2 linked regions of the Homo sapiens genome follow. The protein of the gene in region 1 interacts with the protein of each later gene in a pairwise test. Each region holds a gene or a part of one and is shown in the gene's direction. Other genes may lie near its edges.

What was found.
Region 2: the proteins of GSE1 (region 1) and CADPS interact in a two-hybrid assay, tested with the Homo sapiens proteins (one large-scale study listed by BioGRID).

Annotation. Positions count from the first base shown.
Region 1 is NC_000016.10:85,658,322-85,661,821, forward strand, and holds part of GSE1 (genetic suppressor element 1), read left to right. Parts: intron 1-1,056; exon of another isoform or gene 1,057-1,354; intron 1,355-2,824; coding exon 2,825-3,444; intron 3,445-3,500.
Region 2 is NC_000003.12:62,487,417-62,490,916, reverse strand, and holds part of CADPS (calcium-dependent secretion activator 1), read left to right. Parts: intron 1-3,500.

The DNA of each region.
Region 1 (3,500 bases):
TTCCATAGCTCTGCTCCAGGCCCAGCTCAGGGACCTAGGGACACTGATTCTGTTCCCTGAGCCTCACTTTCCTCAACTGTCCACAAAGGAGGGTGGGTAGGATGATTTCTGAGCATCTTTCCAGCTCTCAAGGCTGTGATGCTGTCCTGGGATAAGAAACCCTTGGGCTCTGGGACGGAAGCGTGTTGGTGGTTTAAAATCTGTCCTCCCTTCTGCCTGCCTCCGTTATCCAGTAGGGCAGCGAGGGAATGCGCCCCCGCTGATCAGGGATGACTGGGAGTGACTGTCACCAGGCCACAGCTAAGTCTCCCTGTGGCTCACACTGCCCGGCACGGCCGAAGTGAGATCCCTTCTGCCTCTCCCAGCCCCCGTCCCTGAGGCCTCTCAGGCTCAGCCTTGCCTACTACCCAGAGGACTGAGGGCAGCCAGCTCCTACCTGGCATGGCCTGATAACATCAGGGTGCCCTGACTCCTGTAGGCATCTTCTTCCTCAGGGCTCCCCAGGGCCCCAGCACAGGTGTTGTGACTTTGCCCACCCATGGACTGCTTCCAGCCAGTGTAGCTGCCCCATCCGGACCTGGGGCATGATGGGAAGCAGGGCCTGGCCTCCCCTGGCTGCGGTGGTTCCCCTGTGGCCGGCTGCACACGTGGCCTTACAGCATTGTGAACTTGGGGGCCTGACAGGGCCCTCATGCTCCAAGCTAGAAAACTGTTCAGTGCTTGGTGTGGCGCATGAAATATTTATTCTCCTGCAGGTTTCATTCCCTTGCTGTTTACTTAAGGACACAGCTTCTTCCTGTGGTTCCCTGTTGTATTCTGCTAAGAGGGACAGCAGCGTCGGATTTGTCCCTTGGCCTGGAGTCTGGAATAACTAGGGAGAGCCTTGGTGGCTGTGTTTAAACAGGGCTCCCGGGGCAGGCTAGAGATCCCTGAGCCCGGCCGTGTGCCTGCTGTGGCCTCTGCCTCTTTCTTCCCCTCAAGCTTTGCCCAGGGTCTCTGCACAGTATTGGTCCAGACATCCTGTGAGTATATCTCCCTTTAAAAAAAAGAAAGATAGCCAGGCACAGTGACACATGCCTGTAGGCCCAACTACTCTGGAGGCTGAGATGGGATGATCGCTTGAGCCCGGGAGTTCTCGGCTGTAGTGTACTATACCCACTAGGTGTCCCAGCTAAGTCCAGCACAAATATGGTGACCTCCTGGGAGCGGGGGACCACCAGGTTGCCTAAGGAGGGGTGAACCAGGGCAGGTCGGAAATGGAGCATGTCAAAACTCCCGCGCTGATCAGTAGTGGGATTGCTCCTGTAAATAGCCACTGCACTCCAGCCTGGGTAACACAGCGAGACCCATCTCTTAAAAATAAGCTGGAAAAACAATACTAAAAATAGCCCTGTGAGTAGATTAAATCTTGTTTTAATTGCACTGAGGAAACAAGCCATTTAGTGTAACTAAGGGGCAGCTTCTTGTTTAATGGAAGGGTTCTGATGTTAGAAATCCCTTCTTTCCCTCCCTGCCTCAGCAGGCCTTAGCCTGGGTCCTTGAAGACACTTTGAGGCCTCTGCCACAGGCCACTTGGGCAGTGGGGTCGCTGCAGTTGTGACAGGGGCCACTGGGGGGCAGTCTCGGCACAGGCCCCATCCTGACTGGGAGGATCTTCATTTCACAGTGGGTTTGGCTCTGGCTGGGCAGACACTGGAAGGTTGTCTTGTGGCTGCCTGCGGGGACAGTGGGGAGGGAGGAGTACTGCCCTGTGAAGGTGGCCAGCCTGCCCTGTGTCATGTGTCCCTACAAGGCACAGCAGGAGGAGAGGGTGCTGGTGGCAGGGCCACAGCCCAGTATATAGAGTGGGTTTCCCCATGGAAAGTGCGGATGAGCGCTTGCCCTTAGGGGAATTCACGCAAGCAGGTGGGAAAATCGACCGAAACTGGATCTGTCCCAGGCCTGAGAGGGTCTCTGCCTTCCCTAGCAGCTTAGGCTGGGAGCCTCCCTATCCTCTTGGAGCAGCCTGCACACACCTGCCGCAGGTGTTGGAGGGCCGGGCACAGTGGCTCACTCCTGTAATCCCAGCACTTCGGGAGGCCAAGGCAGGTGGATCACTTGAGGTCAGGAATTCGAGAGCAGTCTGGCCAACTTGGTGAAACCCTATCTCTACTAAATAGGAAAAATTAGTAGCTGGGCATGGTGGCACACGCCTGTAATCCCAGCTACTCGGGAGGCTGAAGCTGGAGAAGCGCTTGAACCTGGTAGGCGGAGGTTGCAGTGAGCTGAGCTTGCCCCACTGCACTCCTGCCTGGGTGACAGAGTGAGTCTTTTTTTTTGTTTTTTTTGAGACGGAGTCTTGCTCTGTCGCCTAGGCTGGAGTGCAATGGCACGGTCTCAGCTCACTGCAACGTCTGCCTCCTGGGTTCAAGCAGTTCTCCTGCCTCAGCCTCTGGAGTAGCTGGGATTACAGGCACCCGCCACCATGCCTGGCTAATTTTTGTATTTTTTAGTAGAGATGGGGTTTCACCATGTTGGCCAGGCTGGTCTCAAACTGCTGACCTTGTGATCCACCCTCCTCGGCCTCCCAAAGTGCTGGGATTACAGGGATGAGCCACTGCGCCCGGCCGAGTCTTTAAAGAAAAGAAAGGAAAAGAGAAAATGAAAGACAGAAACAATGATCCTTGGGGTGGAGTGTGTGTCCCCTCCCTGCAGCCCTGTTGGCACTGGCTCTCTAAGGGGCTGCGCCATCTGTGTCATCTTAGGAGCGGCAGGCAGCCAGGGAAGCCTGTGGATGACTGAAGGGTCTTTTCTCCCTGACTGAAGGGTTGGTTTCACTCCCTAGGCCAGGACCAAACCGTCACGAGCCAGGTGGCCGTGACCCTCCGCAGCACTTTGGGGGGCCACCACCTCTGATTTCGCCCAAGCCCCAGCTCCATGCTGCACCCACGGCCCTCTGGAACCCCGTGTCCCTGATGGACAACACCTTGGAGACGCGGCGGGCCGAAAGCCACTCTCTGCACAGCCACCCGGCTGCATTTGAGCCCAGCCGCCAGGCAGCCGTGCCGCTGGTGAAGGTGGAGCGGGTCTTCTGCCCGGAGAAAGCAGAGGAGGGGCCACGGAAGCGTGAGCCTGCCCCTCTGGACAAGTACCAGCCACCTCCGCCGCCACCACGAGAGGGAGGGAGCCTGGAGCACCAGCCCTTCCTGCCCGGGCCCGGGCCCTTCCTGGCTGAGCTCGAGAAGTCCACCCAGACCATCCTGGGCCAGCAGCGGGCCTCCCTCCCACAGGCGGCCACCTTCGGGGAGCTCAGCGGACCCCTGAAGCCTGGCTCGCCCTACCGGCCCCCAGTGCCACGGGCCCCCGACCCTGCCTACATCTATGATGAGTTCCTGCAGCAGCGCCGGAGGCTGGTCAGCAAGCTGGACCTGGAGGAGCGCAGGCGGCGGGAGGCCCAGGAGAAAGGTCTGCCTCCCCGCGGGCCCCGAGCTGCTCAGGGAGAGCCGCACAGTGGGGATGGG
Region 2 (3,500 bases), on another chromosome or scaffold:
TTTGGAGCCACATAATCTCTGTCACAACTCAACTCTGTCATTGTAGCATGAAAGCAGTCATAGACAGTATGTAAATGAACGAGTGTAGCTGTGTTCCAATGAAACTTTGTTAACAAAACAGGTCCATAGTTTGCCATTGCCTGGTCTAGGCCTTTTAGATGCACCTTTTTAAAAAAAACCTTTATGGCCAAGTATGTTTAGGAAACAATACCTACCCCACTGACCTAGAATTTTGTGTAACTCTGTTTAACCCGGATTTTCCTAAATGTATTTGACAACCGTGTGCTTTTTTTAAAATGGGACATATACCCTGCAGGATAAATTATGGGAAATCTTGTGGGTTGCAAGTTTGTCAATTTCCACAAATGTTTGGCAAATTTTAGGTCTTATTTGAAAATGTTTGGCAGGCTTGGTGCCATCTCCATTCCCCAAATGGGAAGAGGGCTTGACTTGAGGCTCCAGAGGGTCAGTCTCAGACTCCCCTTTCTGAAAAAATAGAGACTCCTATATGGAGAGTTTGATGGTTATGGTTTGATGGTTTGAAAAGCTCCAGTAAAGCCTACTGCTGGATTTGCCTTGTTAGTTTCTTTCTTTCTTTCTTTCTTTCTTTTTTTAAGGAAATCATTTCGTTCATGCTAGTATTTTACATCTTTGGGATGCAGCAAACAGTATGGAGCAAAGTAGAGGGATGTTACAAGCACATTTTAGGAACTCCAGAACAAATATTCATGAGGCCTTTCCTCAGTTTGGAAGCCTTGACTTGCAGCCTATTTTTAAGCAGTTTTCTGAACTGAGACCCTCCTCTAATGTTATACTGTATAAGGCTCTCACTGATAAATTAATGCAAAATAGGCTTTTCTGCCCCCCTTCCACATCTGAGCCACAAGAGGAGTTTCCCTATTGCAGGGAGGTTAATAACCAGTAGCTCCTCCTTTGCAAATACCAAGAAATTTAAATTTTAGTTTGTTATTCTCCAGTTTATAACAGTCTCTTAATATGGCCCTACTGACTTTTCACTCATGAGGGTAGAACTGGATCCCTTGATGGTAAATTATTGAGAGCCTCTATTTTTTTTCAATGTTCAATACAATGAAGACAGTTGTGCTGGAGAATAGCTATTAAGAGGAAAAGGTTAAAATGAGTAATATTTACGTTTTAAAATAACAATGGTCTTGAAATAACATTTACTTACTTGCACTTAAATACGGAGACTACTACTACCAACACACATGGAAGAGAATAATTGGTATCCTTCACTATTCCTTGAAGAGCCCTAGATTTAGTGCCCATTTACTAGCCAGAAGTCAAGGGTTCAAACCTCTATGAACTTGTTTGCTCCCCTGCAAAACTGAAGTTTTAAAAATGTGCCTGTCCAGTGTCTGAGAATTGTCATGGAACTTCGTGATAATGTCACTAAGTCATTTTATAATCTGTTAAATTTCTTAAAAGTCAAACACGGCCGGGTGCGGCGGCTCACGCCAGTAATCCCAGCACTTTGGGAGGCCGAGGCGGGTGGATCACAAGGTCAGGGGATCGAGAACATCCTGGCTAACACGGTGAAACCCCGTCTCTACTAAAAATACAAAAAATTAGCTGGGCGTGGTGGTGGGCACCTGTAGTCCCAGCTACTCGGGAGGCTGAGGCAGGAGAATGGTGTGAACCCAGGAGGTGGAGCTTGCAGTGAGCCGAGATCGCTCCACTGCACTCCAGCCTGGGTGACAGACCGAGATGCCGTCTCAAAAAAAAAAATAATAAAAGTTTAACACATGACTGCTACTTCTTTGGGGGCATTAAATATTCTTAATACCATCAGAAATAAAGATAGACTCAAAAATCATCTTCATACCTGGAAATCTTAGTCTAGGGATGTTTTCTTGGGAATATTTTTACCAATTAAAAAAAAATTTGAACTCTTGCATGGGCAATTTAAAGGTCTGCAAATTGTGAATAAAGGAATAATAGTTGCGAATAATAACCTGAGAATTATGCAGATACGTGTGTGTTTTTTAGTAGCTTTTTGCTATCTAAAATTATGCTGTTAGTGAATATGATTGTGGTTTGTTCAATTCATACTAAATAGTATATGCCTTTCAGAGTCTGTGGAGATCTTTAAAAGTGCCAACTAAGGGCTGGGTGTGGTTGTTCACACTTGTAATCCCAACACTTTGGGGGGCCAAGGCGAGAGGATCACCTGAGGCCAGGAGTTCAAGACCAGTCTGGGCAACATAACCAGACTCCATCTCTACAAAATAAAAAAAGTAGCCAGGCATGGTGGCACAGCATGTAGTCCAAACTACTCAGGAGGCTGAGGTGGGAGGATTGCTTGAGCCCAGGAGTTCAAGGTTACAGTGAGCCATGATCCTGCCACTGTACTCCAGCCTGGGGTGACAGAGTGAGTCCCTATTAAAAAATAATAATAATAAATAAATAAATAAATAAATAAATAATAAAAACAGTGCTAACTAAAATACAAGCTACCACACACACTGTATCAGCCGATTTTTAAACAGAGTGTGGATGCCACGGGGCAGCTTTGCAGAATGGAATAAAATGGAGTGTAAAAAAGAGCTTGGAGACATGTTATGTGCTAAGAGGAGTGACTCTCTCCATGTTTCCTACAACGTGAATAGAAATAAAGTGTGAACTTCCATCTGACTACTTATTGGTGGGTTGATGAAGAAGCAGATTCATTTCTCTTCTTAGATTTTTTTTCCAAGTGAAGAATGATCTTTTTGGCATACTTCTCATCAAGCTCACCCCAAAACAAGAAACTAACTTAGGTAAATAGATTTAGTTTGCTCAGTCTTTTCCATTTTTGCCACAGAATCTTCCAATACATACATACACACACACAGCCTTTCTTTCAAACAATTGTTATCCTCAAGTAGTTCTGTTCTTCTTCTTTTCAAAATTTATAAGCACCTCGTTATAAGTAAAATGAGAAATGCATTGTAATGAAATGCAATGTAATGTTCAAAATAATTAGCATGCAAAATGCTGAAGAAAAATAGCAATCTGACAAGAAAATGCTACCAATGTATTGAGTTTGCTAAAAAGAGAATGAAAAATATCCTTTATTCTTCAGATTTTCTTATTTCAAAATATGGCCCTGTAAAAGAAAATAGATATCATCATTTAGGCTTGATACAATTAAGGTTATTTAAGATGAACAACAAAAACAACAACAACAAAAATAATTGAAGTTATTTGACGGAAAGGGTAAAATGGCTGAGTCCTATGGCAGCCTTTCCCTAGAAAGACAGTCTTCCATCTCTTCGAAAAGAGAAAAGGGAAGCTACATCTCTGTTTCCGTTAAGCCAGACACAGTCATGGTTAGAATCTCTATGAATTGGTGGACAATGTCATCTCTTTGCTTCTAACCATAGCTAAAGATAGTCAGCTTCTCAAAGACAGTCCCAAGTTGTCAATAAAATCTGGAGCCCATGGCCCTCTCATGGGTTTCCATCAGGACATGTAGTAGGGTCACCACTCACAGTTGG